Homo sapiens: one gene and its partners. The protein of the gene in region 3 interacts with the protein of the main gene of each other region in a biochemical or structural test. Each region holds a gene or a part of one and is shown on either strand. Other genes may lie near its edges. The genes, in order: MAPK8, CDK1 and PKMYT1.

Region 1 (3,735 bases), on a different chromosome or scaffold from region 3:
GTGGATCACTCGAGGCTAGGAGTTCTAGACCAGCCTGAGCAACATGGCAAAACCCTGTCTCTACTGAAAGTACAGAAATTAGTCAGGTGTGGTGGTGCACACCTGTAATCCCAGCTATTCTGGAGGTGAGGCATGAGAATCGCTTGAACCCGGGAGGTGGAGGTTACAGTGAGCCGAGATTGCACCACTGCATTCCAGCCTGGGCGACAAAGCAAGACTCTGTCTCAAAAAATAAAATAGAATAAAAAATGAACTGACATATGGTTCCTCTTTAGTTAAGAATTATGTAGATCACCTTCTTGCCTTCCCACTCCCACCCTAGGAAACGGAGTCAAATGTAATGCTTAATGATTATAACTACATTAGCCAGCAAGGTTAAACATAAGTACTTCCTCCTTTTAATGACACCTCACACTCATTTTATTTATCTTATTTATTTATTTATTTATTTATTTATTTATTTATTTATTTTTGAGATGGAGTCTCACTCTGTTGCCCAGGCTGGAGTACAGTCATGCCATCTTGGCTCACTGCAGCCTCCACCTCCTGGCTTCAAGCCATTCTCCTGCTTCAGCCTACGAGTAGCTGGGACTATAGGCATGTGCCACCATGCCTGGCTAATTTTTGTATTTTTAGTAGAGACAGGGTCTCATTATGTTGGCCAGGCTGGTCTTGAACTCCTGACCTTAGGTGATCCACCTGCCTCAGCCTCCCAAAGTGCTGGGATTACAGGAGTTTGAGCCACAACGCCTGGCCTCCCACCCATTTTAACAACTTTGCTTTATGTACCTTTTATTGCAGGCTACTCAGAGCATTTTGGAAAGCAGTGTAATCAATATATTTTTAACTGCTTAATAGACTAAGCAGTTAGTTTACAGCTAGAGTTGTGCATGAATCAGACTTATGTTCCTAGTCTTCACTGGCCCAGATAATATCTTCTCTCATGCTTGCAGCTTTCAAAATACTTTTGTTTAAAAATGAGCTTTTCTGAAAGTTACCAAATAAGTTGTAAGCTGGATATTTAAAGTTTAACATTCTCTATAAAATCTGTAGAGAAGATTTATTCTAATAGATTTTTGTCAAAAACGGAAACCTTAGAAAAAATTTTTCTCTGAGGCACTAATTTATAAATATTAAATTTTTTTTCTAAAATCTTATCCTTGAAAGCTGAACCATGACATAAATATGAAAATATTCATTCATTTTAATATGACATTTTAGGGAAACTTTAGTTCCACAGTATTTCCAAAAGTAATTTCCAGTTTAGCTCTTAAGACTCTTCAGTGAACTGGCAGCCTTTTAATAAGAATGTACTGTATTAGAAAGTACAGGCTTTAATTTTCTAAGTCCTTTAACATGAGTAAAGGGCACGTGTCTTTCTGACATCTATTTGTGCCGTTTTCCACTTGTCATTTTAAAGAATTGGGACCTTCAGATGTCACAACTAAATGCAAGTTTCTAAGGCTTTTCCTTCTAAATTGCTCATTCTTCCCTCTTTTCCTGTTACACTGCAAGCACTTACTCTCTCCTTTTTGTGTGATGTTCAAACCCAAAGGCATAAAATGCCACGATGTGTTGTCAGTTTCCCTTAGTAAGTGGAGATTCCAAATTGTCTGTTTCTGTGTCTAGCAGATTCTTGTCAACATTGATTGGGATTCCCATTTACAGTTGGCAAGGGTCATCAGTAAGTCTTCCAGGAGACTCTTCATACTCAATTCGTGGGAACTGACTTACTGTATCTAGCCAAAACTAACTTCTTAAGCCAAAAGCAGTTTGGTTTTATGGGTTTAAAAAACTTTAGGTAGGAAACATGAAATACATTTCTCTTACTAAGTTTTCCTTGATTAGTTGTTCATTCTCTGTGCACTTGTTCCTTTTGGGATAGTAGGGTAAATGTAGCATGATGTTGCCAAGAAAACAAATGGACTTTTAATTCAGAACAAGCATAGCACTTCTCAGTTAAATGTATTTGGGAAATCCAGTTTAAAAATTCCAAAGAGCTTTAGATTAACTTTTTTATCATAATTATTCATAGAGATTATTTCTGTTAGATATTTTAATATGCTGAATTATTTTCTCATGCTTTTTTCTTAGAGAGTATAATGCACAGTTGAACTTCTAAATAGTATAGTATAACAATTTTATTTTTATAATTTTACTACCTCATGTACATTTTTATTTACAAAGTTTGTGTTTGGTTCTATTTCATATTTTATAAACAAGTTCTCAGGGACAAACATGCAGGGTTTTTCTATTTATGCAATTTCTGTGCATAGCTCTCACTTTGAAATTAGATATGTAGTTAAAATGCCACACTTTACATTTTCTTTTGTGAACCAGACTTTCAAAAAATAATTTGTGTTTTAAATTATTCCGTTAGCTAAAGTTACAATCACTTTTTTTCTTTTCGTGACGTTTTGCAGTTTTTATATAATGCAGTCATATTATGCTTCTTTGATTTTAATGACCTTTTGCTTTGCTTTTCCTTCTTTTGTGCTGCAAACATATAGTGGATTTATGGTCTGTGGGGTGCATTATGGGAGAAATGGTTTGCCACAAAATCCTCTTTCCAGGAAGGGACTGTATCCTTGTGCTGCTGCAGCAGTTAATTAGTTAGGCGATGAACTTCTTTATGTTCTCTAATGAAAATGAATATGCTACATTTACACAGATGGGTTTTTAAACAGGCATAAAGTTTGTGGCTATTATAGTTCAAAAATTGTTGAGATAAGAAGCTGAAATATTTGTAGGCTGCATCTGGCAGTAGGACATACAGTCTCTGCTGGTAGTCAGAGCACATTCACTGTCACTCATTTTTATTTTATACTGCTTTTTATAATTTTAAAGTATACATGGTGTGTGTGATTTTATTTCTTTCTTTTTTTTTTTATTTTAACCAAAATCTTTATGTTAATGTCATTGCATTTTGTTTTCAGTTGACATTTGGTCAGTTGGGTGCATCATGGGAGAAATGATCAAAGGTGGTGTTTTGTTCCCAGGTACAGATCGTATCCTTATCTTTGGCCTAAAATGTAGTTTCTAAAGGTCAAAATGTATGATAGCACTTCAGTTTGGTCAGGTATAATGTATTTTGTCTCTCCCTAATATATTGTTAAATTACTCTTAAAATACCACCTACTATTTGACATAGACTTTTCCTTCCGTTATTTATTGTTTCATATGTTAATTCTGAACCCTGCTCAATTGTAATTATGCACAATTACTTGCTGGCTTTGAGTTGATTTAACCTAAATCAAAAATCATGGCTTGCATTAAAAATTTATAATAATTATACACTTAAGTCTAGAAATACGTACAACTTAATATGAATTTTGGAGCTGTCTGTTGCTTCTGGCCATCCTTTTGTTTTGTCCCCTACCTCCTTTTTGTTAATGTTCTGTGTGGTTTGTGTCTTTTGATTGTTGTCTCATTACTCACATAACATACTGACCCTTTCATCTGAGAATTTCAGCAGTAGTAGTTTTGTATGGTAACGATAGCTTTGGATTCATACTTTTTGTTCATCCCACTACTTTTAATATTTATATTAACAGTGATTTGTTATGTGTTTACCAGCTAGTAACACTTAGAATTGTTTCAGGAGGAAGAATGGGAAAAGGCATATTCACAAGGTTACAATAAGTGAGTTTTAGGCCTTGGCCTTCAGGGTCCTGGAGTGTAAAGACTAGAGGAAAGGAGACCAAGAAATCCTAACCTTACAACTTAGCAAAAAAC
Region 2 (3,500 bases), on a different chromosome or scaffold from region 3:
TAGTCCACTCAGTAAGGCTAGACCAAGAAATTGAGCAAATGTAAAGATTTCCAAGTTGAAATTTATATTTGAAATAGCATGCAGAAAATGGCTTACATTCAGATATTACAACATACCTGACTATATTTGGATGACGAAGTTCCTTTAATAGAGAAATTTCCCGAATTGCAGTACTAGGAACCCCTTCCTCTTCACTTTCTAGTCTGATTTTTTTCATGGCTACCACTTGACCTGTAGTTTTGTGTCTACCCTTATACACAACTCCATAGGTACCTGAAACAAAGTAAATAATATGCTGTGTGACACACCCCACAAACTAAAGATCTTTTTTTCTTTTTTTTTTTCCTTATGGCAGGGTCTTGTTTTCTTGTCCAGGTTGGAGTGCAGTGGGTCAATCAAGGCTCACTACAACCTCCTCCTCCTGGGCTCAGGGGATCCTCCCACGGCAGCCTCCCAAGTAGCTGGGACTACAGGCACATGCCACCACACTCGGCTAATTTTTGTCTTTTTGGTAGAGATGGGGTTTCACCATGTTGCCCAGGCCAGTCTGGAACTCGTGAGCTCAAGCAATCTACCTGCCTCGCCGCCCCAAAATGCTGAGATTACAGGCGTGAGCCACCGCACCTGGTCAAACTAAAGGATTTCAAGATCATTGAATCCCATAAGGGTCACATGATAGAAATGTCTGGTGTGGCCATATGGGAAGTATCTTACTCATACCCTCATTGCTTCCAAAAAGAAATTGAGAGTAACTACAATCTGTATGGCTTAAAAATAAAATTCATGTAGTCATCACAAGTTTTCTATACATCTAAATTACCATTAATGTTCCAGCATATTTTACAGAACAAAATAGATCATTTGCAAATTAAAATTAACCTTCTGTCAATATCCTACCCTGCAACGAAGTGGGCATAAAATATAGTGTAAAAATTTGGGCTCAGGAAATATTACTGATAAAAGTCATTATGACACTTTCAGAAAATACTGTAGAGTGCTTTATGCTTTTCAAAACACTTTTATCTGTATCTCAAAATACAGTCAACAGTCCTCATTCTCAAAAGAATGGAGAAAAAAGACCAGGTGTTTGTGTATTAAACCTAATAAAGCACATTGTATGTACTACATATTAGGAAAGCCTCACACCCATTTGCAAGTTGATGAAAATACTGATTTTGATATATGGGCTTCAGGTAATGAGCAACAATATCAATTATAAGGGATAGCAGGGAGGGAGGAGGTGGATACAGGGAATGAAATGGCAATAAGGGAGAAGACTAGCTAAAATCTGTCATATACGTGGCTGAATTCCCTAGATAAGTCTTTTTAAACTCGAGTTGGAGTTTAGGGAGGTCCTGAACCCCTTAAGTACACACAAAATTTTGTTGAATAGCTTGCTTTCCATGGCATTGGTTTAACTTCAAAAGTGATTAGAGTGCACTGTTCTAGGAAGAAGGCCTCTTCTATAGCTTTTATGAGTTTCTCTGAAAGTAGCAATATTTTAAAAAAGGCTAACAACCAACAAATTACCAACTGCTTGGTTAAAAAATTAAGCAGTTTGAGCAGTAGCAAATTGATGCTACTTAAGCTTAATTTTTTTGACAGAACCTCTATACAAAAGTCTATGTTTTCTTAAATACTGGTGTCATTTTAAAACTATAAACTGACATGAGTCATTTTATACTATTTTGATTAAATTGTGGATTAATGTATAACTTTTTGATAACCAAAATTACTCTACATTAAAGGAGAATTGACTATATTTAATCCTCACAGCCATCCTTAAAAGTAGGCAACCTTCATATACTTAAAATCTACATTTTTTTGGATGTAAATTCAGCTCTCATTAAACACAAAAAGTAGGTAAACCAGTAGCACAATCATCTGGCATACTGTTTAAGTGATCTCAGGAAAATTAGTCACTTGCATAATACAGTCACATAAACAGTTAATGGTAAGTTCAGAACTAATTTTTTTTCTAGCATCCTTTCTTCTCCCTCAAGTGTACAATCTCATCTAATCCTAAATAATTTTCAGAATTAACAATTAACCAGTGGCCAACACTCAATGTGTTGAATTTTAGAGATAATATCACTTCTCACTGAACTACTGGAAGAGGGGTTAAACAAAGCAGAACTTTCTATTGGTTAATCATCCAAAATTATTTTTGAAATACATGGCATATCCTCCAAAATGAACTAAGAATTCTAAAGACAGAAATACTCTAGGGTATTTAACTAAGTATAAATAACTAAGGAGGCAAAAATCATTAACACAGGTAAGCCTAGAAGGAGATCAGTCTAAGTCTAATGGAAGATTTATCCCAGGAAACAAAAAGAAACAAAAGAAAAATATGTAGGATATGATCAAGTTATGGAGGCCCTTAAGCAGAAAACCTTCATTAAGCAAGTATTTATCAAATGCCTACTAAATGCCAGGCAAGGTTCCACCATCATGGATACTGCTACTCTATGATCCAAAAAGACATTTTCTTAAGACAGGAAGGATTTCAAAGATTAGTATCACAACACTCAGATTTCTGTAATTCAGAAGAAACCAGAGAACAATTTTTGTAATATTTAAAATAGTAAAGTCTGGAGGTATTTAAGAAATGAATTAGGTTGTCAAGACTCACTGTCAAGTGAGAGAAAAGGCAGAGACTGTTCTAAATCAGAATTAATGTCAATGAAAAAAATAAAAAATAATGCTAACATACATACAGATAATAAAGTAAACATGACAAAACACCAACATCTTGGTAAAAATATTACAAGTTCATTGCATAAATCTTTCAATATAGATTTGGAGATGTTCAAAATGAAAAGTTGAGGGGAAAAAATATAACTTTTAAAGTAGTATTTTAATACTAGACTTTAACCAGATACCTGGCAGAACCAAAAGAAAATTCTGTGTGAATCATTTAGGCCTCCATTTATTTCCACAAGTTCCTTTTTCCAAAACAATATCCAGCACATAATCCAAAACAATCAGGCATTGGAGTAGAAATGACAATACAAGCCAGAAAAAGAAACAACAGTGTTCAGAAGAGCAAACAAGGAAAACAGATGTTATTATTATCTATTTGGCTATCTCCTGTGGGTTGGGCACTACTGATAGGCAGTGGGCAAACAGTTGTGAACAAGACAAAAACCCCAGCCCTCAAGGATCCTATGGTATGATGCAAAGGGAACTACAAAATGCTCTTGGACTAGAGGAGGAGATAAAAAATGAAGCCAGTAGAAACTGGCCTCCAGGTAGAAAGAACAGCCATTGCCAAAACTCATAGGCCAAATCACAGGATACATTTGAGGACATCAAAGAAATCCAAATTAAGAGTTAAGTGGCATTAGATGGAGCTGGTGAAGAGATGGTTTTGGAGACAGTGTTCATAGTAATAATACAATGTTCAAATGATAAACATTTGAAGGTTTTCTGAGTTAAAGCGCTCATAACAAATGCTTTCCATAATATTGTTCAATTGAATCATATCTTTCGTGTTA
Region 3 (2,804 bases):
CAGTTGTGCTGTTTCACTGGGGCAGGGGTCCACGGAGCTGCACACACTGCCATTCTGGAAGTGGACACCACTAACTGGGTTTTGGCACGACAGTTATGAAAAAGAAAGACACTTGAGGGATTCCGGGTTTTCACTTTGGAATTGGAGATAAGGGATCGTGGGCCCGTGTAGTCTCGGAAGAGGTTGTGTAGTTTAGGATCAAAGAGCTGGCCGTGATGAGGGCAGGGATGCAGGCGCAGCCCGTCTGACTCCAAACTGCCTTGCTCTTAACCCGACTGCAAGACCCTCAAGAACACGGGCCCCATGGTTTTCCTCTTATGTTTCTATCATCTCTAAAATACAACAGCCTGGTGGGCAGGTGAGTATGAATCTGTCCTCTGCCTTTTCTTGGTAGGTGCTTATTGCTCCCATTGCCGTTTAAAGTAGAATAAGTGTGTGGTATAGACATAGCTCTCTTCTGTGGCCTCTTTGGAGCCACAGGGCCAGGTGGTATCAGAGTGGACATGCTGCCCTGTACTCAGCCTCTGTCTCTGCCCCCAGGGCCTCCTGCACTGGCCATGCCCATGCCCACGGAGGGCACCCCGCCACCTCTGAGTGGCACCCCCATCCCAGTCCCAGCCTACTTCCGCCACGCAGAACCTGGATTCTCCCTCAAGAGGCCCAGGGGGCTCAGCCGGAGCCTCCCACCTCCGCCCCCTGCCAAGGGCAGCATTCCCATCAGCCGCCTCTTCCCTCCTCGGACCCCAGGCTGGCACCAGCTGCAGCCCCGGCGGGTGTCATTCCGGGGCGAGGCCTCAGAGACTCTGCAGAGCCCTGGGTATGACCCAAGCCGGCCAGAGTCCTTCTTCCAGCAGAGCTTCCAGAGGCTCAGCCGCCTGGGCCATGGCTCCTACGGAGAGGTCTTCAAGGTGAGTGAGGGGACGGCTTCTAGGCCCATCTGGGGGACCTCCTTTGTGTTTCTGCACCTCCCTTGGCAGGACAGTGTCCTGGGCAGCCTGATCCCCTTCCGTTCCCTACAGCCTGTCCCTGCTGGGCTCACAGGCTCCCTCCACATTTGACTTGGCTGCTCCCATCATCCCCAATGCAGGCCCCTCCAGGGGTTGCTCTGTGCATACTGGCCCCTTGTCCAGAGTCTGGCACGCCCTGCAGCAGCCCCTGTGCCATCTCCTCCGGCCCTGGCGCCAGCTGTGCAGCGTCCTTGGCGAGTCGGCCCAGCCTCTGGCACTGGCCCTGAGTGCAGTGCCTGGCCAGCCCTCCCCAGGCTGGCAGGCTTTGAGCTACCCCCTGCCTGCCATCTTGCTTTTCTTAAACACAGTTTCCAGTCATTTATATTTTCTTTTAGAGAGGAGTTTTCCCTTGTATGAGTCCTGTATGAAGACAATTTTGTTAAAAAGTACAAACAACATTGGCCCCCAGGTCAGCTTTCTCACAGGGGAGCCCACTTTTCACACCACAGCCTGGGCTGCCTGTGTTGCTCTGCAGCTGCTTTTTCCACCTCGTGACACATCCAAGAGGTCCCCTGGGGTCAGTGCAGGTCGGCCCTGGCTCCTCCGTCGCTGGGTCTCCACAGACCCAGCCCGAGGGATGGAGGTTTGTCTGGTTTTGTTATTACCCTGGGCAGGGGTCTGAGACAGATGCCAGCTACACCACCGTGCCCCGTGTGTGAACCCTTAATGGGGTCTGCCAGGTTGTCCCCCTATGTGATTGTGCCACTTGTGGCTCACCCTCACTGTGTGCGTGGGTACCACCTCCCTTCCAGGTGCGCTCCAAGGAGGACGGCCGGCTCTATGCGGTAAAGCGTTCCATGTCACCATTCCGGGGCCCCAAGGACCGGGCCCGCAAGTTGGCCGAGGTGGGCAGCCACGAGAAGGTGGGGCAGCACCCATGCTGCGTGCGGCTGGAGCAGGCCTGGGAGGAGGGCGGCATCCTGTACCTGCAGACGGAGCTGTGCGGGCCCAGCCTGCAGCAACACTGTGAGGCCTGGGGTGCCAGCCTGCCTGAGGCCCAGGTCTGGGGCTACCTGCGGGACACGCTGCTTGCCCTGGCCCATCTGCACAGCCAGGGCCTGGTGCACCTTGATGTCAAGCCTGCCAACATCTTCCTGGGGCCCCGGGGCCGCTGCAAGCTGGGTGACTTCGGACTGCTGGTGGAGCTGGGTACAGCAGGAGCTGGTGAGGTCCAGGAGGGAGACCCCCGCTACATGGCCCCCGAGCTGCTGCAGGGCTCCTATGGGACAGCAGCGGATGTGTTCAGGTGGGGACCGGGGCACGCCAGGTGTTTGGCAGGCTGTGGGAGGCCCTTCCTGGGACGGAAGCTCCATTCCCCAGGAGGGAAGCTCCACCCTAGCCCAGGACACCCGGCCTCAGAGCCACAAGGCTGAGACGCCATCCCTGCCCTCCAGTGGAGAGCGTCTCTGGTCAGGCTGCCTGTGAGCCTCGAACCCTCCAGAGCCACTTTGTGTAACCTGCCTCCTCACAGCTCCACAGGAGAAACAATTGTCACTCCATTTACAGCCAGATTAAGGGCCTTGCCGGAGCCCACTGCTAGCAAGTGGCATAGCTGAGACTGGCCCTAGGTGCTGGGTTCCAGGGTCCACACTGGTAACCACTGCCCTGATCATCAGGATAGTAATACCTGCCAGCAGTAACTGTGGTGCCTGTCCATCAGGGCACTGGGAGGACTCACCACTGTGGCTTGTGGGCTCCCTGGGCACAGAGCCCATATTCCATGATGTCCCCATCCTGCCCAGGGTTCATGATCAGGCCTGTTGGGGTGTCCCTTCCCCCTGCTTCCGCCCCTCCCTG

The links.
Region 1: the proteins of PKMYT1 (region 3) and MAPK8 form a complex in vitro, tested with the Homo sapiens proteins (one study listed by BioGRID).
Region 2: of the proteins of PKMYT1 (region 3) and CDK1, one has a biochemical effect on the other in vitro, tested with the Homo sapiens proteins (2 studies listed by BioGRID and IntAct).

The regions. Positions count from the first base shown.
Region 1 is NC_000010.11:48,421,578-48,425,312, forward strand, and holds part of MAPK8 (mitogen-activated protein kinase 8), read left to right. Parts: intron 1-2,510; coding exon 2,511-2,582; intron 2,583-2,936; coding exon of another isoform or gene 2,937-3,008; intron 3,009-3,735. UniProt on the Homo sapiens protein: Serine/threonine-protein kinase involved in various processes such as cell proliferation, differentiation, migration, transformation and programmed cell death.
Region 2 is NC_000010.11:60,781,478-60,784,977, reverse strand, and holds part of CDK1 (cyclin-dependent kinase 1), read right to left. Parts: intron 274-3,500; coding exon 117-273; intron 1-116. UniProt on the Homo sapiens protein: Plays a key role in the control of the eukaryotic cell cycle by modulating the centrosome cycle as well as mitotic onset; promotes G2-M transition via association with multiple interphase cyclins.
Region 3 is NC_000016.10:2,974,768-2,977,571, reverse strand, and holds part of PKMYT1 (membrane-associated tyrosine- and threonine-specific cdc2-inhibitory kinase), read left to right. Parts: exon of another isoform or gene 1-503; coding exon of another isoform or gene 504-540; coding exon 541-908; intron 909-1,759; coding exon 1,760-2,253; intron 2,254-2,804. UniProt on the Homo sapiens protein: Acts as a negative regulator of entry into mitosis (G2 to M transition) by phosphorylation of the CDK1 kinase specifically when CDK1 is complexed to cyclins. Mediates phosphorylation of CDK1 predominantly on 'Thr-14'. Also involved in Golgi fragmentation.